3 separate regions of the Homo sapiens genome follow, and all the other regions are linked to region 1. The links come from fine-mapping of genetic effects on gene expression. A gene starts in region 1. Each other region holds a variant in brackets. All regions are shown on one strand. Distances are from middle to middle.

What was found.
Region 2: its variant is fine-mapped to the expression of ISL2 in whole blood (INTERVAL, PIP above 0.99).
Region 3: its variant is fine-mapped to the expression of ISL2 in whole blood (INTERVAL, PIP 0.93).

Annotation. Positions count from the first base shown.
Region 1 is chr15:76,333,643-76,341,825 of GRCh38, forward strand. ISL2 (ISL LIM homeobox 2) reads left to right here and starts at 3,131. Exons shown (of 6, transcript NM_145805.3): 1 at 3,131-3,299; 2 at 4,136-4,325; 3 at 4,610-4,872; 4 at 6,634-6,917; 5 at 7,492-7,659; 6 at 8,077-8,183. The coding sequence starts at 3,242. RefSeq lists enhancers at 2,866-3,160, 2,972-3,471, 3,165-3,214, 3,640-4,451, 5,999-6,068 and 2 more.
Region 2 is chr15:76,440,205-76,448,387 of GRCh38, forward strand. All of the region lies in intron 25 of SCAPER (S-phase cyclin A associated protein in the ER), which reads right to left. Among named protein-coding and RNA genes, the nearest start is that of ISL2, 110 kb to the left of the region's middle. The variant C/T (reference allele first, on the strand shown) is at 4,083.
Region 3 is chr15:76,811,581-76,819,763 of GRCh38, forward strand. All of the region lies in intron 5 of SCAPER (S-phase cyclin A associated protein in the ER), which reads right to left. Among named protein-coding and RNA genes, the nearest start is that of SCAPER, 90 kb to the right of the region's middle. The variant A/T (reference allele first, on the strand shown) is at 3,485.

The sequences.
Region 1 (8,183 bases):
TCAATGGCACAGTGAAAAAAGCAAGCAAGATGGAGCCAGATAGACCTGGGTTCAATGCCAGCAATGATTTAACCTGTGACCTGAGGCAGTAACTTCCCCTCTCTGAGCCTCAGTTTCCTCGAGGATTGGAGGGGCCCAATACTACTCACCACATGGCATTACTTTTAAGACCTAATAGGCTAACAACAAGGACTTTGCACATGGTGGCCCTGAACAAATATTTGTTTTGACCTGGCTTCCTAGCATCCCAGGAGGGGTGACCCTCTCCAATCCCCACCTCCCTAGTGAAGTTTCAAAGGACAGGTTTTTCTGGACGGGAAGGAAGAGTTTCTCTGGGCAGGAGACGGTTAAAAGCTGGGACTACGATTCCAGCCTGGGGCTGCCCCCTCCTGGCCAGCTGTCTGAACCCCTGAATTATAGATGTGCTTGCTCCTGGCCTGGCGAGCAAGAGCTAGTAGGTGCTGGGAGCCAGGCCTAGTCCAGGGTCACCTAAGGGTAGGGCCATTGGGCCAGACGCACCTCCTCACTCCACATGCAGACACACACACCGAGTCCCCTCCCAGTTCTGACTGTGCACCCACATTCACAGATATAACCTGTACACAAAGTCTATGCACAGACCACACATCTCCAAACCCCATCTACACAGCAGACACACACACAGCAAGCACACATCGAAATCACAAAGAAATCATCAGATGACACATACTGAGACATACTTAGACCTCCCCTCCCCATCCAGACACACGCAGGCAGGGTGGGCAGAGGCTCCCAACATAAAGATACAGCCACAGTCATAACTGTCATAATTAACACATATGGAGCACTTACTCTGTGCTAGGTATTGCTCTAAGCCCTTTCCAGAGAACAGTTTATTTAATTATTATGTAATAGAGATAGCTACAATTATTATACCCCCATTTTACAGATGAGGAAACTGAGGGAAGGAGAATTAAAATAAGATGCCTGAGGTCACACAGGTGTCCTGGCACAGCCTCAGGCACAGATACCCACCCCCTCGCTCTTGTCCCCCATTTACATAAACACATTCATTCAAACGCAGCATCCCCCAACCCCTGACCTGCCCGCACACACTCAGGGTGAGCGCTCTTTGGGGGACTGTTGACTAAAGACGCAAGAAATGGCCTATTGGCCAACGGGTGGTAAACTGTAACAAGAGCCGGTCCGGTGGCCCGGCGCGGTGGCTCACGCCTGTAATCCCAGCACTGTGGGAAGCCGAGGTGGGCGGATCACGAGGTCAGGAGTTCGAGACCAGCCTGACAAACATGGTGAAACCCGGTTTCTACTAAAAATACAAAAATTAGCGGGGCGTGGTGGCGCTCGCCTGCAATCTCAGCTACTCAGGAGGCTGAGGCAGGAGAATCGCTTGAACCCGGGAGGCGGAGGTTGCAGTGAGCCGAGATCGCACCATTACACTCCAGCCTGGGCGGCACAGCAAGAGTCTATCTCAAAAAAAAAAAAAAAAAAAAAAAAAAAAAAGCCGGACCGGTGAGAAGACTAGACCTCCTAAAGGTGGAGGCGGAGCTCAAAAGCCGGACGCTACTGGACGAGGCTTAAAGCGCTCGCCCCAGCGCGGGGCCGGTGAGGAACGTTCACCGTGGACCATGGTCGAATAATGTTAGCGTGCACTCGGGGCCTCGCCCTAGCCTTCTGCAAAGCCTCGGCCTGCGCCCTCGGCTGCATCCGTTTCGACGCCAACCAACCTCATGCTCTTAGTAGAACGGCAGTAGCGACCGCGCCCTCAGGCCCACAAGCCCGAAGGTCTGGGCAGGGTCTGGAATGGCGGTGGAGACACTTTATCCGCAGGCGTTTCACCTCGCGCCCCACCCAGGCGCACACCAAGTTCTTGGTACTCCTTTTAATGGGAAAACAAGAACAGACACCATGGTTGGATAAATGTTATTTATAATTCATGGGCCGGTCTTTGAACCCTTTCAAACAAAACCCACAGCGATTTCTTTGAAAGAATGCCTGGACTGTGCTCAGAGCTCTCAGATTTTCTCAGGACCAACGAGCCGCCGCCTCGCAGATACCACTGTAAATTACCCAGCGCCTTACGTTCGTTTCTGATTATTTGCATTGCAGTGGGTTTGTTAATGAAGGACAAGAGTTTAGAAAAATCTTTTATTTTGGAAGTTGGACACGCAATCGACCCCAGCAGTGTTCCTAAAAGGAGCTATGCCATTTGGATGGGGGAAAAATGAGGGGGCGGGGAAGTCCATGTTACATTTAAAACAACAACAGCAACAAATTAAAAGCAAAACAAAACAACAAAAAAAAGGAAGTGGAGCAGGAGGAGGAGGTGGTGGTGGAGGAGAGGGAGGAGGGGCAGCAGCAGCGGCAGCAGCAGCAAGGATGGAGTCAGGACCCGTCCCAGTCCCGGGTGAGCGCTTTTGGATCTGGGTTCTGGCTCAACCCACGTAATGCCCCAATCTAAAGTTTTCTACGTGTGTGTGGATAGGAAAGTCTAAATAGAGTTTATCAGAACCCAGGTGGTCATTCTCTACACTCTCTCTAGCTTGGACCCGAAGAACAAAGGCACATGAGAGGAGAAAGGTGACCAGCTGGACGATGACGGTCACGTCCAAACGGATCCCCCTTGTCCTCGGCTCTCTCGTCCTGAGAGTGGGTTTAATTTTTTTTTTTTTAATTTATATAAGAAGGGAGCTCTTAAAGGAGAGCCATCTCCACCCTCAGGTATCCATCACCCAGCTCCAGCGCGCCTGGGAAAACCGCCCCGAAAGTCCAAGAGGAAGCTCAGAGTTGTAACGGCCGCGGAGCCAGCTCGGCGGTGACGCAAGGTCCAGTCCAGATTGCCAGGCCCGGGGCATGAGAGAGGATCCTTGTAGGTTTCGGAGGTGGGGGGGCTGCACTCCATTGTTCACTCCGGGCCAATCAGGGTTGGCCCACTTCCTCCCAGCCAATCTCCCTTCACCCCCAGCCTCCAACCCAACCCACCCCGCCCATCAGCCCCTGGATCCCCATCACCTCCCCCGCATCCCCGGCAGTTCTGGGGAAGCTTCGTGACGCCACAGGTCCCGCCCCCAGCTCCGGCCCGGGGCTAGTGCGTGTTGACGTCATGCTGCGTGCGGGCCGGTGCGGAATCGCTCCTTCAACTCCGCGGGGCAGTAGGAGTTAGTTAGCAAAGAGCCGAGGCCGGGCGCGCGACCCTCGTCCTTCTGCCCCTGGCCGCACACTTTGCGCACATCTCTTTTTCTGCATGGTGGATATTATTTTTCATTATCCTTTTCTGGGTGCTATGGGTGATCATTCCAAGAGTAAGTATTTCTGTGTGTGTGTGGGGTGGGGTGTGTGTGTATGCTTAATATGCAAAATTTCTAATGCAGAAAAATGTTTAGTGGATTCTACAAGTGGCTTCTATTTGTCAGAATAGTTTAGGAGAGGAAAAACGAATGCATGTCTCCTGCAGGACTGCTTATCTTTGGGAATCCTGTTGTTTTATTTTATAAGTAAACACTATTTCTCAAGCCGGCTAGGATGACTTCGGGCTGCGAAATCTGCTTCTGTTTTGCGCAAAGGCAATTAGGTTTGATTTAGGGATGTGGGTTTTTTTTTTTTTGGTTGTTGTTTGTTTGCCTTTCGGTTTTTCAAAGCTAGGAAGCTTTCTTTCGCTTGCTCTGGGATATTTAAACTAAGAAATGTCTGAGAGGATGAGCGGGGACTGCCGAAAGACGATGTGTCTGTGTTGGGATAGGAGGCAGCCGCTGTGAGTGGGAGTGTGTGAGCGGAAATGCCAGGACAGCACCGTTAGGTGTTGATATCCAGGCGTCCGCAGTGCCTGTGTATTTACTCTCTTCTTAGTTTCGTGTTTGCGTTTAGTTTCAAGACACGTCGACAAAACGACTGTCATTAATGAATGTAATAACGAAATATTTGGGGTGGGGGACAGAAGAAACCTTCAGCAATCCACAAGATACTGGTTTTTCGTTTCCAATGCCCTGGACCTTTAGAGAGCTCATCATCTTTCCTTATGGTCGCAAGTCTTGAAAGAAAGAGCAAGAGAGCGAGCGGGTTGGGTTGGGGCTGGAGTAGCCGAGGCCGGCCTGGGTCCGGGCAGTCAGGCCTGACGCGGCCCCGCGCCCTTCCCCGGCAGAGAAGCCCGGGACGGCCATGTGCGTGGGCTGCGGGAGTCAGATCCACGACCAGTTTATCCTGCGGGTGTCGCCCGACCTCGAGTGGCACGCGGCCTGCCTCAAGTGTGCCGAGTGCAGCCAGTACCTGGACGAGACGTGCACGTGCTTCGTGAGAGACGGGAAGACCTACTGCAAGCGGGACTATGTCAGGTGAGGCCGGCGGGAACGCGGGCTGGGCCACCGCGCGCAGGGGCCGGGGCCGGGACTGGGGATGGCGGCCTGCCCGCGCGCCCCGGCCCTGCCCAGGGAGAAGGCCATCCGCATCCCGCACGGGTGCCGCAGCGCTCCCCCGGGCCCGGGAATGCCCGCAGGCGGGTCACCGCAGTCTCCTGGTGGCCACAAAGTGTCCTGGGCGCGCGCCGGAGCCGTAGCAGCCAGGGAGATGAGGGCGGCCGCAGGCCCAGCGCTGACACCGCCGCACCTTGGGCCCGCAGGCTGTTCGGCATCAAGTGCGCCAAGTGCCAGGTGGGCTTCAGCAGCAGCGACCTGGTGATGAGGGCGCGGGACAGCGTGTACCACATCGAGTGCTTCCGCTGCTCCGTGTGCAGCCGCCAGCTGCTGCCTGGGGACGAGTTCTCGCTGCGGGAGCACGAGCTGCTCTGCCGCGCCGACCACGGCCTCCTGCTCGAGCGCGCCGCGGCCGGCAGCCCGCGCAGCCCCGGCCCGCTTCCCGGCGCCCGCGGCCTGCATCTGCCCGGTAAGCGCGCCGGGGCCTGTGCCGGGGTGAGCGGGGTGTATGTGCGTGCGTGTGTGTAGGGGTACGCTTGTGTCCCTAACGAGAAGTTGTCAGTTGTGTGTGGTTCCGTCTGCCGGGATAGTGTTTTTCTGTATCAGTGCGGAACTGTGTGCTGGGAACAAGGCTGTGTGTATTCTCGTGTGCTCGGGAGAAACTGCGTGTGTATGAGTGTGTGAGCACGGAGAATTGTGCAGAATCGTGTTCTCCATGACCAGGAACATGCAGGGCACAGTGCTAGGAGCAGAAGAGTGGATGACAACAGGGAATCTTAAGTGGTGTCCGTCTTGGGGCTTGTATTAGGAATTTCTTGGAGGAATATGTGTTATTGTCAGAGGGTAAGGTTTGCCCAGGGGTATGTGTGTAAGTAACACAGCTCCAAACTGGGAGCTGGGCAGGAGCTTGGTCAGCCAGGAGCCAAGAACCCAACAAAGAGGGGTTTTTGCCATCTTGTTTTGAGGCCCAGTTTGATGAACAATTTAGCCAGGTTCTTCTGGGGGAGGGGGAGTATCAATGCATAGTGGACTGTCACTGGAATATTCTGGGTCCTAATCAGCAGCTGCCCAGAGATGGGGTCTGAGTGTATAATGGGCAGGTACGGCTGAACAGAAACAGAGGTGCCTCCACCCCAGGCAAGGCAGTTTCCCCCAGGTAGCCATAGGCCTGCAGCACAGATCCGTAGACCAGGCTGGGCCTCTGGGTGCTGTGTGGCCTTGCCCCGCTCCTCCCCTCTCTGGATCTTCACTTCCTCCCTATAGAAAGAGGAAACTGGGCTGGATGGGCTATTTGTAAATATTTGTCCAGACCTAGAAATTCGTAGAGGGGAACATAAACCGAAATGGTGCAGTACAGATCCACGGTATATATGGGTCGGGATCAAATGGAGATGTGAAATGGGAGCAAGCGGGTATTCAGTGCACCCCCATCTGGGATCTCGGAGAGGCTCCCCTTTGTTTGTTTCGGGCTTCAGGGTGCAGGCTCTGGAATCAGTCACTGTTTCCCCGGGATGGAGAGAACCTGGGGCCAAGCGAGGAGAGTGCCAGCGGCTGCTCAGCACCTTGGTCGGTGGGAGGCCACTGGGCTGGGGAACCTGGAGCCTTGAGGAAGGAGACAGGGGCCGAAGCCCAAGGGCGGGCAGGAAGGAACTGTTGCAAGCCCTGGAGGCCCGTCCATAACCGTGGATGAGTCTTCTACACATGTGGCCTGGCCCTGTCCAAATGGGCTCTGAAGGAGGGGAAGGGCCCTCGTAGGCCCCCGGCATATTCGCACCTCCCACCCAGTCCCCTGGGCAGCGCCTCGCCCTGGGTCCACGTCGGTCCCTTTCCCTCTCCAGAGTCCTGGGCAAGCCTCTTTCCTCTTCCTCTGAAACTCCGACTTCTTCCGGAGGGCTTCGCTCGTTCCGAGGGTCCTGCGACTGGAGGAGGCACATCCCTGAGCAGCCACTCCCTCCCCGCAGCGGCCTGTCGCCGAGCTCCCGCGCCCTGCTTGAGCTCGGGAGAGATCGCTGCGGGGCAGTCCGGCCCGGGAGCGAGAGAAAGAACGAAAATGCACAGCTCTCTCCGAGTAAGGCGAACAGATGGAGAGGAAGACGAACAATTAAACGAAACAAACAGAATAAAACAGAAACGAAATCGGGCCCCGGGGGGCTGGGCCACCCGGAGGTTGGGCTCGGGGCGGGTGGGTGGCGGCCCCTCGCTAACCTCTGGCCTCACCCTGTCCTGGCAGACGCTGGGTCGGGCCGGCAGCCCGCGTTGCGCCCGCACGTGCACAAGCAGACGGAGAAGACGACCCGCGTGCGGACTGTGCTGAACGAGAAGCAGCTGCACACTCTGCGGACCTGCTACGCCGCCAACCCGCGGCCCGACGCTCTCATGAAGGAGCAGCTGGTGGAGATGACCGGCCTGAGCCCGCGGGTCATCCGCGTCTGGTTCCAGAACAAGCGCTGCAAGGACAAGAAGAAATCCATTCTCATGAAGCAGCTGCAGCAGCAGCAGCACAGCGACAAGACGGTGAGCAGCCGCTGGGCCGGAGGCTCGAGTCGGGTGGGGGCTGCGCTTCCGCCGCGGTATCTGCGTGCCCTTTTCTGGGCGAGCCCTGGGAGATCCAGGGAGAACTGGGCGCTCCAGATGGTGTATGTCTGTACCTTCACAGCAAGGCTTCCCTTGGATTTGAGGCTTCCTATTTTGTCTGGGATCGGGGTTTCTCCTTGTCCCAGTGGCAGCCCCGCGTTGCGGGTTCCGGGCGCTGCGCGGAGCCCAAGGCTGCATGGCAGTGTGCAGCGCCCGCCAGTCGGGCTGGTGGGTTGTGCACTCCGTCGGCAGCTGCAGAAAGGTGGGAGTGCAGGTCTTGCCTTTCCTCACCGGGCGGTTGGCTTCCAGCACCGAGGCTGACCTATCGTGGCAAGTTTGCGGCCCCCGCAGATCCCCAGTGGAGAAAGAGGGCTCTTCCGATGCGATCGAGTGTGCGCCTCCCCGCAAAGCAATGCAGACCCTAAATCACTCAAGGCCTGGAGCTCCAGTCTCAAAGGTGGCAGAAAAGGCCAGACCTAACTCGAGCACCTACTGCCTTCTGCTTGCCCCGCAGAGCCTTCAGGGACTGACTGGGACGCCCCTGGTGGCGGGCAGTCCCATCCGCCATGAGAACGCCGTGCAGGGCAGCGCAGTGGAGGTGCAGACGTACCAGCCGCCGTGGAAGGCGCTCAGCGAGTTTGCCCTCCAGAGCGACCTGGACCAACCCGCCTTCCAACAGCTGGTGAGGCCCTGCCCTACCCGCCCCGACCTCGGGACTCTGCGGGTTGGGGATTTAGCCACTTAGCCTGGCAGAGAGGGGAGGGGGTGGCCTTGGGCTGAGGGGCTGGGTACAGCCCTAGGCGGTGGGGGAGGGGGAACAGTGGCGGGCTCTGAAACCTCACCTCGGCCCATTACGCGCCCTAAACCAGGTCTCCCTGGATTAAAGTGCTCACAAGAGAGGTCGCAGGATTAACCAACCCGCTCCCCCGCCCTAATCCCCCCCTCGTGCGCCTGGGGACCTGGCCTCCTTCTCCGCAGGGCTTGCTCTCAGCTGGCGGCCGGTCCCCAAGGGACACTTTCCGACTCGGAGCACGCGGCCCTGGAGCACCAGCTCGCGTGCCTCTTCACCTGCCTCTTCCCGGTGTTTCCGCCGCCCCAGGTCTCCTTCTCCGAGTCCGGCTCCCTAGGCAACTCCTCCGGCAGCGACGTGACCTCCCTGTCCTCGCAGCTCCCGGACACCCCCAACAGTATGGTGCCGAGTCCCGT
Region 2 (8,183 bases), 110 kb after region 1:
ATACTGGTGCCGATTCTCTAAACTTATTCCAAAATGAAACCCAATGTTTATAGGACCAAGCCCTGAATCAAAATGTTTTCAGCGAAGTTAAATTAAAAGTCATTATAACTTTTAAAAGCCAAGCATGTATTCTTTTTTCCCATTGCCAAAGTGGTTTCAAATACTTTCAACATTCTTGTTTGCAATACAGAAAGATGCTTTTATTAGTAATAGAAATCTATTGTTCTGTAATGTGATTCCATGAGAGAGAAAATAAAATTAGTAATTACTGGTAATTCTGTACAACTATTTTTTAGTATTCTGAAGATAGGTTTACATATTTTCAAGCTGTACAGTGTATACAGAATGCTCAGAATATGAATTAGGTTCACTGAGAATCAATAAGAGATTGTTTAGAAAACTGTCAAGACAGTGTCAGAGTACAGAAAAAAAAGGCAAAAAACGTGGAAGGGCTCCAGCAGCAGACACAAGTTCTTATATTGTTGGCCTCATTTCCTATACGAAACAGTCACTAAACATGCAACAGTCTTTTTGCCACTGATATTTATAAAACGTGTATGCCCATGTTATATTATGCATAAAAATAGAACTGATGAAAGGTATTTACCTCAACAATTTACATGGCTTGAAAATATAAAAGGAAATCACATAGAAGTGGCTAGTAGTTCCTCACTATTATCTTTTAAAATTATTCCCCTTCTGGTTTTTTTTTTGTTTTTTTTTTTTTTTTTTTTGGGGACGGAGTCTGGCTCTGTCGCCCAGGCTGGGGTGCAGTGGCACGATCTTGGCTCACTGCAAGCTCCGCCTCCCAGGTTCACGCCATTCTCCCACCTCAGCCTCCTGAGTAGCTGGGACTACAGGCACCCGCCACCACGCCCGGCTAATTTTTTGTATTTTTAGTAGAGACGGGGTTTCACCATGTTAGCCAGGATGGTCTCGATCTCCTGACCTCGTGATCCACCCGCCTTGGCCTCCCAAAGTGCTGGGATTACAGGTGTGAGCCACCGTGCCCAGCCTATTCTCCTTCTTTTTATGCCACAAACAATGTTATGACAATATTAAAGAAGACACTGCAATTAATCCTAAATATCATTACCCTTTCTAACATATTTATGCCTTTGAGCCTATATTTATGCAGCCAAAATCCTAACAAGATAAAATGTCAGCAAACTTTATAGTGTATGCCTTAGTGGTCATGATGCTTACAAAAGTCTTCGTTATACATGTTGAATCATATACTTCCTCTGCTCAACACATTCCCTGGTATCTCATTTCCTGCAAACTAAAAGCTCCAAACCTCATGATGCCCAAGGAAGCCCTTCTGATCTATCCTCTACATCCATTCCTCCCCAAATTAATATACTAAGTCAGTCTGTCTCTTGCTCGCATTCTGGTATTTCCTCTGCCTGGAATATCTTTCCCCCAGGTAACCTCATGACTAATTTCTCCACTTCTTCTAGGTCTCTATTCAAATGTCATCTTATCCATAAGTTATGCCAGAGTGTCTTATTTAAAGTAATATTTCTCTCCCCAAACCTATCTTCCCTTTCTTGCTTACTCAACTTTATTTTTCTTCCAGTGCAATAGTTACCTCCTGACATACTGTACATTATTTCCTCTCTCTCTCAGAATATAAGCTCCACGAGAGCGAGACTTTGTCTTGATCACTGCTACAATCCCAGTGCCTACACAACATCAGACATGTAGTAGATGTTCACTAAATATTTTTTAAATGCATGTAGACACTGATTTTCACTAAAAAAAATTCACCAAACCAATAATTGGGATATTTAGAAGGTCCAAGTTAAAGAGAAAACCAGCATTAAATATCTATCTATCTATCTATATATACATGTATATATAGATATAGATATATATAGTATTTAGTCATCCTGGGCAAAGGTGTAAAGTGAATTAAAGGAAGAAAGGAATTTTGCACGCAAAATCCTTCTCTATGCAATATCCTACGTGTTCACCTCTTACTCCTGCTTCAGTTACTGTAGTCTATGAGGTACATCTTTTCTTTTCCCCACCCCCCAAAATAAGTTATGTGCCTCACTGTAATTCCCAAACACCTTGTACATGCTGTGCTTTACTGCAGCACTCATTATACTACATTTTAAATGTCTCTTACTGGTTTGTCCTACTAAACTGTGAGTTACAATTTGTCTCTGTAGTTCCAGTGCCTAAATATTTGTCCAATGAAAGAATGGGTAGGTTTTAGAGGCATTTACATAGCAACTTTGGTGTGTTGGGAGCACTGTCCTGGGAGGCCTGAGTCTCTCTCATTCTATCTCACCTGCTGCTACCAGCATGACTTGTGAGTATCCAGTTCCTTATGTATAAAATGAGGACATTCAGCTTTAATTAATATTTACTGAGAGTCCACTGTAAGATGGCAAGCTAGGTCCCCTTATACATATTTATCCATTAAATGTTTATAGCTACCCTCCAGTATATCTATTATTATGCCTATTATGCAAATGAGAAAACAGAGGCTCAGAAAGGTTAAGCAACTTACACAAGATCTTGAAGTCAGCAAATAATGTAGCAGCTTCTCAAATTCAAAACATCTGACTCCATGTTAGGTGATATACCCTAACACCATTATATCTTTCCTAGTATAAGGATGGACTCAATCTCTGAGACCTCTTTTAAGTCTCAGATTCTGTAGGTCTTTATTTATGAGTATGAAGTTATTCAAGTAATCTCATCTATCTGGAATACAGGCAAAAACCAGGAAATAATTTAAAAAACCAGTGAAAAAGGTGGTGGGGGCATGTGTATTGATGCAAATGAGAAGACAGATAAACAGCGAAAGTTGGGGTAAAAAACACCACCACTGAGGGAATCACCTTCTAAAAATAATGATAGATGGTGGACCTTGATGAATGGAGAAAATCAGAGACTCCCAGAGTTGGAAAGCCTAAAGTTGATTATCTAGTTCATCCTCCCAAACAGTGCAGGGGCTCCTTAATATAAGAGGTCTTCAAAATGTTTGTGAAAAATGTGTATTTTGAAAAAACTATGCATGGATTTCAATTATTTTTGCACCAAAATAAACTTACACCAACTTGTTATAACATGTCTGAAGAGGCTCTAGTTGGAAGCACAAAGAAAGATAAGACATCCATTTGAAAAGATCCCCTTTAAGAGCAAGACGAATTCTGCTAACATTGAAGCAAGAACAAACATCAAATTTATGGTGAAGCTTGGGTGGAAGAATTGTGAAATCACTGGTGTTTTACAAAAAGTTTATGGGGACAATGGCCCAAGGAAATCAGCAGTTTACAAATGGATAACTTGTTTTAAGAAGGGACAACATGATGTTGAAGATGAAGCCTGCACCAGCAGACCATCTACATCAATTTACAAGGAAAGAATTCATTTTGTGCTCTAATTGAAGGTGACTGATGATTAATAGCAGAAACAACAGCTAACACCACAGACTTCTCAACTGGTAGCTTATACAATTCTGACTGAAAAATTAAAGTTGTGCAAACTTTCCACTTGATGAGTGCCGAAACCATTGTGTCCAGCTCAGCTGCAGACAAGAGCACAGCTTTCAATGGAAATTTTAAACAAGGGGGATTAAGATCCTGAAGCACTTCTTGGAAGAACTGCAATAGGACATGGCTTTACCAGTATGATTCTGAAGACAAAGCACAATCAAAGCAATGGCTACCAAGAGGTGGAAATAGCCCAGTCAAAGCAAATGCGGACCAGTCAAGAGCAAAGATCATGGCAACATTTTGGGATGCTCAAGGCATTTTGCTTTTTGACTTTCTGGAGGGTGAAAGAATGATAACATCTGCTCATTATGAGTGCGTTTTGAGAAGGTTAGCCAGAGCATGAGCAGAGTAACACCTGGGAAAGCTTCACCAGAGGGTCCTTTTCCACCACAGCAATACTCCTGCTTATTCTCATCAAATGTAGGCAACTTTTCAAGAGTTTTGATGGGAAATCATTGGGCATCCACCTTTCAGTCCTGATTTGTCTCCTTCTGACTTCTTGTTTCCTAATCTTAAAAAATCTGTAAAGGGCCCCATTTTTCTTCAGTTAATAATGTAAAAAAGATTGCA[C/T]TGACATGGTTAAATTCCCAGGACCCTTAGTTTTTTAGGGATGAATTAGGTGGCTGGTAGTACCACTTATAAAAGTGTCTTGAACTTGATGGAACTTAAGTTAAAAAAATAAAGTTCACATTTTTTATGTTCATTATGTAATTCAGTTTTTCCACAAGTTTTCCCTCTCTCCTCACTGCTGTAAACTAATCTTTCCCATTTTTAAATAAAATTTTGTTATTTCAGAACCATTTATGTTTAATCTAATTACCTATGTGTTAGGGCTTAAGTCCAACAATTTACCTTTTGTTTATTCTGTTTGTGGTCTGCTCTGCTTCTTGAACCCACACATTTACATCTTTTGCCAAATTTGGGACCATTTCAGCTACTATTTCTTCAAATACTTTTTCATCCCTGTCTTTTTTCTACTTCCATGAATCTGATGACATGAATGTTAGATCCCATGAGTCTGGTGACATGAATGTTAGATTTCTTGTTATGGCTCCATCAGTCCTTAGGTTCTGGTCACTTAAAACATTTTGGTCTGTTTTCTCTGTTGTTCTTCAGATTGGGTAATTTTGATCATTCTAACTTCAAATTCATTGATTCTTTCATCCTTTCTCCCCATTCAGTCATTGGAGCACATTCATTGACTTTTAAAATTTTGGATTATTATAGTTTTCAATTATAGCATTTCACTTGGTTATTCTTTATATCTTCTATTTTATTTCAATAGCTTTAGGGATCAAAGTGGTTTCTGGTCACATGGATGAACTGTATAGTGGTGAAGTCTGGGATTTTTGTGCACCTGTCACCCGAATAGTGTACACTGTACCCATTTCATCCTTTACCCTATTCTCACCTTTTCTCCTCCTGAGTCTCCATTGTTCATTATACCACTCTGTATGCCTTTGCATACCCATAGCTTAGTTTCCACTTGTAAGTGAGAAAATATATCTTCTATTTCTTTGCCGAGACTACTTTTTCATTTGCTTTAAGCATATTTGTAATTGCATGTTGAAGCATTTTTATGGTGGCTGCTTTAAAATCCATGTAAGAATTGTAACATCTGTTGTCTTTTCTCATTCAGGTTGAGATTTTCCTGGTTCTTTCTATGATGAGTGATTTTTAAATTATATTCTGGAAACTTTGTGTATGATAAGACTGTATCTTATTGAAATCTTGTTTTAGAAGACCTCCTCTGACACTGTTCTGATGGGGGGCAGGGAGTGTCACCTCATTACTGTCAGCTGGGGGTGAAGGCTGCCTCATTATCAGGTGAGGGCAGGAATTCAGGCTTCTGAGTTAGCCACCTGGAGATGGCATGTTACTGATATCACCACCTGGAGATGGCATGTTACTTGGTTTCCACAGGAGGGGTTTCCACATGAGGGGATGGGATAGGGCTTGTTACCACAGGAAGCTGGTGAGTCCTGGCATCTCACTTGGCCCCTTCTGGCACCATCCTGGTGACTGGGGAAGGAGAATCTCACTATCTCTCAGTAGGGGTAAAAAATCAGGCTTCCAATACAGTCTCCATGCACCCCGGGTGGAGGTGCATCATTACTGCTGGATGAGGATTAAAATCTCGATTTCCCACTCAGCCTTCTCTAACACCACCAAGGGATGGCGAGAGGGGCGTTGCATGAGTGCTTAACCCTTTCTTAAGACCTCTGATTCTTCCAGAGGTAATATCCACTCTTACTGCACAGGGAATTTTCTTGTAGAAATAGTGGTAGAAGGGGCAGTAGTGATAATAGTAATAGCAGCTAACATTTAGTGGGCACTTAATGTGAGGTTCCATGATAACAGCTCATCTGGATCATTTCACTTAATCGACACAACACTCTCACAAATCATAAATATTGTTATTCCTATATTCAGACAAGAAAACTAGGGTTCAGAGAGGTTAAATCACATCAGGGTCAGGATTTCAATCCAGGCTGTCTCACTTCTGAGCCTGAGTCTTTAACTATTGTAGTATACAATACTGAAAATTAATCAAGGTGACACGTGAAAGTGCTCAAAAATTATAAAGCACTAAACAAGCGTGATGGAAGTTTTATTACTATTTCCAGGGCACTGCAACAAGTGATCATGATTAGATAAATGAAAATCCAGGCTTCAACTGGTGCTAATGAATCATTTAAACATTGTTTCTCATTGCAATAGCTGCCCAAAAGACATGTTTCATAGCAAAAGCTGCACAAGAACCTGGGGAAGTTTTAGAGGTAGAGCTTTAGTGAAATACAAGTATCTATTATTTTCTCATAGGTTGTTTTTGCACATATAGGGAACTGAAATTTCCTTTAATCTCTTCAGGCAAGCTCAATAGAAACTTATAAGGACAGATGTGTTATGGATAATCACTAAGCTTTGCTATCCACTTTATAGGATGGAGATTAACATTCTGGAGAACCCCCTACAGTTTAAAGAGGCAGTTATGTGCATATCCTGAAGTAGACAAATTCATATGAAAAAGGAAATGTATGTCATCCATAATCTCATAATACTGTGAAATATATACAGACAGTCCCCAACTTGCCATGGTTCAACTTATGATTTTTTGACTTTATCATGGTGTGAAAGAGATACGCGTTCAATAGAAACCATACTTCGAGTACCTATACATCCATTCCCTGTTTCACTTTCAGTACATGATTCAATAAATTACATGAGACGTTCAACACTTCATTGTACAACAGACTCTGTTTTAGCTAATTCTGCCCAACTATAAGCTAATGTCAGTGTTTTGAGCACATTTAAGGTGGACTACGCTAAGCCATGATGTTTGTTAGGTCTGGTGTATTAAGGGCTGAAGGTTAAGCTGATCACCAATGGCTAATGATTTAATTGATCATGCCTATGGAATGAAGCTTCCATAAAAACCCAATAGGATAGGGTTTGAAGAGCTTCAGGAGCATGAAACACATGGAGGTTCTTGGAGGGTGGTGCACCTGGAGAGGGTAATCCATGCTTCTTTTCCTCATCCTATAAATCTCTTCATCTGTATCCTTTGTAACATCCTTTGTGATAAACTGGTAAATGTAAGTGTTTCCTTGAGTTCTGTAAGCCACTCTAGCAAATTCATCAAACCCAAGGAAAGGGTCATGGGGAACTCTGATTTATAGTCATTTGGTCAGAAGCACAGGTAAAACAACCTGAGACTTCTGATTGGCATCTGAAGTGGTGGACAGTCTTGTGGGACTGAGCTCTAAACCTGTGGGTATGATGCTACCTTCAAGTAGTCAGAATTGAATTGAAGTAGAGGCTCCCAGCAGGTGTTTGCTGCTGAAGGACTACTTGGCTTGGTGTGTGTGTCGGAAGACCCCTAAACATCTGAGGTCACAAACTCATTTTGTGTTGTGAAAGTATAGCTGAAACTGAGTTTGTTATTCCTATATTCTTAGACACCTATCTCTGAAATAATATTATTATCTGAACTACAAAACACATTAGCTTACAACAATTGCTTTCATTCATTGAACATTTTTTGAATACTATGTCCTCGACTCTGTGATAAACTCAACAGGTGAAGAGGAAAAACATGGTCTTGCCTCCCAGAGTTCACAGGTAAGTAAAATGTAATTCGAATTCCAGGTGATAAGTAAACTCATGGTCTTATGAGGACAGGTGCAAAGTGCAGTGCCTGGGGAAGGTAACCCCTGAGCTGAGTCTCACAGAAAGAGGAAAAACTTAGCCTGCTGGGATGGTGGTGATGTTGGGTAGTGAAGAGGACACATGAGGAAACAGCATGAAAGAAGACAGAAGAGAGTATGTGTGTTCAGGAAGCTGCAGGTTGCTGGAGATAGTTGGACTAGTGGTGTATGAGACTGTCAGATCACACAGGCCCTGCTATACTGAGGGGTTTAGCTCTCAATTCTGAGCATAAGGGGTAAGACAATGAAGGATTCTAAGCTAGAAGTGACATGAAAAGTTTTCATTTTTTGAAAAATGACTCATCACAATATGTAGGCTGCTATGGGAAGGGTTACAATTAACAGCAGGGAAGGAGGCTATTATATTACTTAGAAATGAAAGATGATGGGAAATGGAGAATAATCTAATTGACTGCATATTTAGGGAAAGGGGGAAAGAAGAGTGAAGGGAGGGATGGTTTAA
Region 3 (8,183 bases), 480 kb after region 1:
GGGAGTTCAAGACCAGCCTGATCAACATGGAGAAACCCCTCACTACTAAAAATACAAAATTAGTTGGGGTGCTGGCACATGCCTGTAATCCCAGCTACTCAGGAGGCTGAGGCAGGAGAATCGCTTGAACCCAGGAGGTGGAGGTTGCGGTGAGCTGAGATCACGCCATTGCACTCCAGCCTGGGCAACAAGAGTGAAACTCTGCCTCAAAAAATAAAAAATAAAAAAATAAAAAAAATAAAATAAAAAAGGGAAAACAAAACAAAACAAAAAAGTAAAAAGGAGGCTTGTAGCTATAAATACCTATATTGAAGAAGAAATATCTCAAATAAACAACCTAACTTTACAACTCAAGAAACTAGGAAAAAAACAAACTAAACCCAAAGTTAGCAGAAGGAAGAAAATAATAAAGATAACAATAGAAATAAATCAAATATAGAAAAACATCAATAGCCGGGCATGGTGGCTCATTCCTGTAATCCTAACACTTTGGGAGGCCGAGGCAGGCAGATCACTTGAGGTCAGGAGTTCGAGACCAACCTGACCAGTATGGTGAAACCCTGTCTCTATTAAAAACACAAAACTTAGCCAGGTGTGGTGGCAGGTACCTGTAATCCCAGCTACTCAGGAGGCTGAGGTGGGCGAATCATTTGAATCTGGGAGGCAGAAGTTGCAGTGAGCCAAGATTGTGCCACTGCACCCCAGCCTGGGTGACAAAGCGAGACTCCGTCTCAAGAAAAAAAAAACAAAAAACAAAAATTAGCTGGACATGGTGGCATGCGCCTGTAATTCCAGCTATTTGGGAGGCTGAGCACAAAAATCACTTGAACCTGGGAGGCAGAGGGTGCAGTGAGCCACGACTATGCAACTGCACTCCAGCCTGGGTGACGGAGTGAGACTCTGAAAAAAAAAAAAAAAAAGAAAGAAAGAAAGAAAGACAGACATCAATAAAACAAAGAGTTGGTTGTATTTTTTAAAATGGCAAAACCTTAGGGTGAAAAAAAGAGATGACTCATCGGAAACATAAAGAGGGACAATACAACAGACGCCTTGAAAATATAAAAGATCATAAAAGTTGATTATGAACAATTATATACCAATACATATATAACCTAAGGAAACAGTATGTTCCTAGAAACATACAACATGCCAAAGCTGAATTAAGAAGAAACAGAAAGCCTAAACATGCCAGTAACAAAATGACTGAAATAGTATCAAAAACTTCCCAATGAAGAAAAGTCCAAAACCAGATATCTTCAGAGCCGAATTCTACCAAACATTCAAAAAAATTAGTATAAATCCTTCTTAAATACTTCCAGAAAAAAAAAAATAGTAAAGGGAAGAGTTTCAATTTCATACATGAGATCAATTTCATCCTGATATCAAAGTCAGAAAAAGATAACACAAAAAATGATGAATATACACACAAAAATGCTCAATACTAGGGAACCAAATTCAACAATACATCAAAAAGATAATATACCATAACCAAGTGAGATGAATCCCTGAGCTGCAAGGATGGTTCAATACATGCAAATCAATCAATGAGATACAACACATTAGCACAATGATAGGCAAGAAAGCATATAATCATCTCAACAGACACAGAAAAAGCATCTGGCAGACAGAGTTCAATATCCTTTCACTAAAAAAAAAAAAAAAAAAAAAAAAAAAACAACTCAACAAAATAGGTATAGAAGGAAATTTCCTCAATATAGTAGAAGTCATGTATGAAAAACGAACAGCTAACATCATAATCAACAGTGATCAATATCAACATAATAACACTTTTCATCTAAGATCTAGTACCAGGCAAGGATGCCCACTCTGGCCACTTCTAGTCAATGTAGTACTGAAAGTACTAGCAAGAGCAATCGGACCAAAAAAAAAAGAGAAAGAAACAAAAGGCATTCAAATCAGAAATAATGAAGTAAAATTATCCATGGTTGCATTTGAATTGATTCTATATGCAGGAAAATGCTACAGGTGTCACATACACACAAAAAAAGGTCAGAACTTCTAAATGAAAAGTAGCAGGATACAAAAATCAACATTCAAAAAATCTGTTGAACTTCTTTGCATCAATAACAATCTATGTTAAAAAGAAATTTTCAAAATCCTATTTATAATAGCACCAAAAGAATCAAATACTTAGGAATAAATATAATATAACCAAGGAAGTGCAAGATCTGTACACTGAAAACTATAAAACATTGATTAAAGAAACTGAAGCAGATGCAAATAAACAGAAAGCTATTCCATGTTTATGGGTTGTAAAAATTAATACTGTTAAAACATTCATACAGGCTGGGTGCAGTCGCTCACACCCGTAATCCTAGCACTTTGGGAGGCCAAGGTGGGCAGATTACTTGAGGTCAGGGGTTCGAGATCCGCCTGGCCAACATGGTGAAACCCCGTCTCTACTAAAATTACAAAAATTAGCTGGGCATGGTGGCAGGTGCCTATAATCCCACATACCCGGGAGGCTGAGGCAGAAGAATTGTTTGAACCCGGGAGGCAGAGGCTGCTGTGAGCCGAGATTACGCCACCGCGCTCCAGCCTGGGCGTCAAAGCGAGACTCCATCTCAAAAAAAAAAATTCATACTATCCAAAGTGACATGCTCAATGCAATCACTACCAAATTGTACTGGCATTTTTCACAGAAATAGAAAAAACAATGCTAAAATTTGTATGGAACTACAAAAAACTTTAAATAGCCAAAACAATGTGGAGAGAGAAAAATTAAATTGGAGGCATCACATTTCCTGACTGTAGATTACACTACAAATCAACAGTAATCTAAACTGTAATGACAGGCATACAGACAGACATGAAGACCAACAGAACAACGAAATGTAACAGAAAGCCCAGAAATAAACTCAAGCATATGTGGTCAACTAATTTTCAACAAGACCACCAAAAAAACACAATGAGAAAAGGATAAACTCTTCAATAGTGTTGGGAAAACTGAATAACCACATGTAAAAGAAGGAACTAGACCCTTATCTTACACCATACGCAAAAATAAACTCAAAATGCATTAAAGATGTAAACATGAGACCTGAAACTATAAAACTTCTAGAAGAAAACAAAAGGAAAAGTTCCTTAATAGTGACCTCAAGCAATAATTTTTTTGGTATCACACCAAAAATTCATGCAACAAAAGCGAAAATATCCAAGTGAGACTACATCAAAATAAAAACTTTCCTACAAATAAAAAGAAGACATTTAACAGAATGAAAAAGCAGGCTACAGACTGAGAAAAATATTTGGAAACTCTGTATATGATAAGGGGTTAATATCCAAACTATATAAGGAACTCACACAATTCAATAACAGGAAACAAATAACAGATTTAAAAATGGGCAAAGAATCTGAAGAAGTTTTTTTCCAAAGAAAACATAAAAATGGCTAATAAGCATAAGAAAAAGTGCTCAACATCAGTAATCATCATGGAAATGCAAATTAAAACAAAAAAAAAATC[A/T]CCTCACATCTGTTAGAAGAGCTATTATCAAAAAGATAAGAGATAATAACAACTGTTGGCCAGGGTGTGAAGAAAACCCTTGTACACTATTTGTGGAAATGTAAACTGGTATAACCATTATGGAAAACAGTATGAAAGTTTCTCAAAAAATTAAAAATACAACTACCATATGACCCAAAAATCCCTCTTCTGAGTAGATAGCCAAAGAAAATGAAATCAGCACCTCATGGAGACATCTGCACTCCTATGTTTATTTGCAGCATTATTCACAATAGCCAAGATATGGAAACAACCTTAAGTGTCCATCAATGGATAAATGGGTAAAGAAATTGTGGTGTATATATACACACACATACATACAGTCAAGCATCACTTAACAACAGAGATATACTGAGAAATGCATTGTTAGGCAATTTCATCATTGTGCGACCATCAGAGTGTACTTACAAAAACCTGGATGGTACAGCCTACTACACACCTACGTTATATGGCATGGCCTATTGCTCCTAGGCTACAAACCTGTATGGCAGGAACCTGACCCGCACAACAGGAGGTGAGCAGTGGGCCAGTAAACATTACCACCTGAGCTCCACCTCCTGTCAGATCAGGAGCAGCATTAGATTCTCATAGGAGCACAAACCCTATTGTGAGCGGCACATGTGAAGGATCTAGGTTGAGTGCTCCTTAGGACAGTCTAATGCCTGATCATCTGAGGTGGAACAGTTTCATCCTGAAACTACCCCTGCCACACCGACCCCAGTCCGTTGAAACATTGTCTTCCACAAAAACAGTCCCTGGTGCCAAAAAGGTTGAGGACTACTGCTGTATAGCATGTTACTATACTGAATACTACAGGCCAAGAGTAACACAATGTTAAGTATCTGTGCATCTAAACACAGAAAATCTACAGTAAAAATACGTTGCAAAATATTTTTAAAATGATAAACCTGTAGCATTTACCATGAATGGAGTTTACAGGACTGAAAGTTGCTCTGGGTAAGGGAGGGTGAGGGAGGGAGTAAAGGAGAGAATGGTAAGTGAAGGCCTAGGACATTAGTGTATGCTGCTGAGACTTTATAAACTACATATTTAGACTACACAAAATCCATACAAAAATTTTCTGTCTTCCTAATAAATTAACCTTAGCTTACTACAATCTTTTTACTTTATAAACCTTTTAGTATTTTTTAAACTCTGACATTTGTAGTAACACTTAGCTTAAAACACAAACACATTGTACAATTGTACAAAATTATCTTTATAACCTCATTCTATAAGCTTTTTCCTATCTAACATTTTTTTTCCTTTTTAACTTTTGTTAAAAATGAAGACACGAACACACACATTAGCCTAGGCCTACCCAGGATCAGGATCTTCCACCTCCACATATTGTCCCACTGCAAGGTCTTCAAGAGCAAGAAAATAACATGTATGGGAGCTATCATCTCCTGATGACAATGCTTTATCCTGGAATACCACCTAAGGACCTGCCAAAGGCTGTTTTACAGTTAGCTTTCTTTTTGTTAAGCAGAAGGAATACATTCTAAAATAACAATAAATAGTATAAAAATACATAAGCCAGTAACATAATTTTTTTTTTTTTTTTGAGATGGAGTCTCGCTCTGTTGCCCAGGCTGGAGTGCAGTGGCGCTATCTCGGCTCACTGCAAGCTCCACCTCCCAGGTTCACACCAGTCTCCTGCCTCAGCCTCCCGAGTAGCTGGGACTACAGGCGCCCGCCACAATGCCCAGCTAATTTTTTTTGTATTTTTGTATTTTTAGTACAGACGGTGTTAGCCAGGATGGTCTCGATCTCCTGACCTTGTGATCCACCCGCCTTGGCCTCCCAAAGTGCTGGGATTACAGGCGTGAGCCACCGTGCCTGGCTGCCAGTAACATAATTTATTATCATCATCATCAAGTACTGTGTACTGTACACAACTGTATGCACTATACTTCCATGCAACTGGTAGCACCATAGGCTTGTTTCTATCAGCATCATCACAAACACTGAGTAATATATTGTGCTACAACATTATGACAGCTATGACATCACTAGGTGACAAGAATCTTTCTGGTCCATTATAATCTTATGAACCACCATTGTAGGTCAGCTGTTGATTGAAACACTGTTATGCAGCACATGACTGTACAATGAAATATTATTCCACCTTTAAAAAGGAGATCCTGACATTTGCAACAATATGAATAAACCTCAAGGACATTGTGCTATGTGAAATAAGCCAGACCTACAAAGAAAAATAGTGTATGATCTCATTTATATATATATAATCTAAACAAAGTCGAATACGTAGAAAGAAAGGGACAATCAGTGGTTGGTTAACAAGGTCAGGGGGAGGAAGGAAATAGGGAGATGTAGATTAAAGGATACAAACTTCTAATTACGTAGGATGAACAGGTCTACAAATCTAATATACAGCATGAGGGCACTAGTTAATGATAACGTATTGTATACTAAAAATTCACTAAAAGAGTAGTTTTGTTACTCTTACCACACACACAAAAAGGTAACTATGTGAGGTGATAGGTTCATTTGCTAGACTGCAGTAATCATTTCACTACATATATGTATGTCAAAACATGTTATAAATCTCAAATATATATAACAAATATATATGTAAATAAACAGAATACCATTTACATTAACACCCCAAAATATGAAATACTTAGGTATAAAACTAACAAAATATGTATAAGATCTATATTAGGAAAACAACAAAACTCTGATAAAAAAAATTAGAAAACTAAGTAAATGGAAAGATAATCCATGGATAGGATGACTCAATATTGTCAAAATGTCAATCAGTTCTTTCAAACCTGATTTATAAATTCAATGCAATCTCAATCAAAATCCCAGCAAGTTAAGCTGATTCTAAAGTTTACAGCAGAAGCAAAAGACTCAGTAGAGCCAATACAATTTTGAAGAACAAAGCTGGTGGACTAACACTACCCAATGTCAAGAAATACTAAAAAGCTATAGTAATCAAGACAGGGTGGTACTAGGATAAAAGACCAACAGGTCAATGGAACAGAACAAAGAGCTCAGAAACAGACCCACATAAATATAATCAACTGATCTTTGACTAACGTACAAAGCCAATACAAGGGAACAAAGATTGTTTTTCAACACATGATGCTAGAATAAATGGGACATCACATGCAAAAACTAATGAATCTAGACACAGAACTTATAATCTTCACAAAAATTAACTCAAATTGGATCCTAGACCCAACTGTAAAATACAAAACTATACAACTCCTAAAGTATAACTTGCAGGGAAAAAACCTAGATGGTCTTGGATGCAACAATGAATTGTTAGATACAACACCAAAGGCACAGTCCATGAATGAAAAAATTGATAAGCTGGACCTCATTAAAATCAAAAACTTCTGCTCTGCAAAAAACAATATTGAGAGAATAAGACAAGCCACAGACAGGGAGAAAATATTTGCAAAAGACATACAAGAGACACTGTTATCCAAAACATACAAAAAACTCTTAAAACTCAACAATAAGGGGGGTGGAGCCAAGATGGCCAAATAGGAACAGCTCCAGTCTACAGCTCCCAGCGTGAGCGACGCAGAAGATGGGTGATTTCTGCATTTCCAACTGAGGTACCAGGTTCATCTCACTGGGGAGTGCCAGACAGTGGGTGCAGGACAGTGGGTGCAGCGCACCGTGCGTGAGCCAAAGCAGGGCAAGGCATTGCCTCACCAGGGAAGCCCAAGGGGTCAGGGAATTCCCTTTCCTAGTCAAAGAAAGGGGTGACAGACGGCACCTGGAAAATCGGGTCATCCCACGCTAATACTGTGCTTTTCCAACAGGCTTAACAAACGGCACACCAGGAGATTATATCCCGCACATGGCTCGGAGGGTCCTACGCCCACGGAGCCTCCCTCATTGCTAGCACAGCAGTCGGAGATCAAACTGCAAGGCGGCAGCGAGGCAGGGGGAGGAGCACCCACCATTGCCAAGACTTGAGTAGGTAAACAAAGCGGCCAGGAAGCTCGAACTGGGTGGAGCCCACCACTGCTCAAGGAGGCCTGCCTGCCTCTGTGGGCTCCACATCTGGGGGCAGGGCACAGACAAACAAAAAGCAGCAGTAGCCTCTGCAGACTTTAATGTCCCTCTCTGACAGCTTTGAAGACAGTAGTGGTTCTCCCAGCATGCAGCTTGAGATCTGAGAACAGGCAGACTGCCTCCTCAAGTGGGTCCCTGATCCCCAAGTAGCCTAACTGGGAGCCACCCCCCAGTAGGGGCAGACTGACACCTCACATGGCTGGGTACTCCTCTGAGACAAAACTTCCAGAGGAACGATCAGGCAGCAGCATTTGCAGTTCACCAATATCCTCTGTTCTGCAGCCACTGCTGCTGATACCCAGGCAAACAGGGTCTGGAATGGACCTCCAGCAAACTCCAACAGACCTGCAGCTGAGGGTCCTGAATGTTAGAAGGAAAACTAACAAACAGAAAGGACATCCACATCAAAAACCCATCTGTACGTCATCATCATCAAAGACCAAAGGTAGATAAACCACAAAGATAGGGAAAAAACAGAGTAGAAAAACCGGAAACTCTAAAAATCAGAGCGCCTCTCCTCCTCCAAAGGAACGCAGCTCCTCACCAGCACAGAACAAAGCTGGACGGAGAATGACTTTGACCAGTTGAGAGAGGAAGG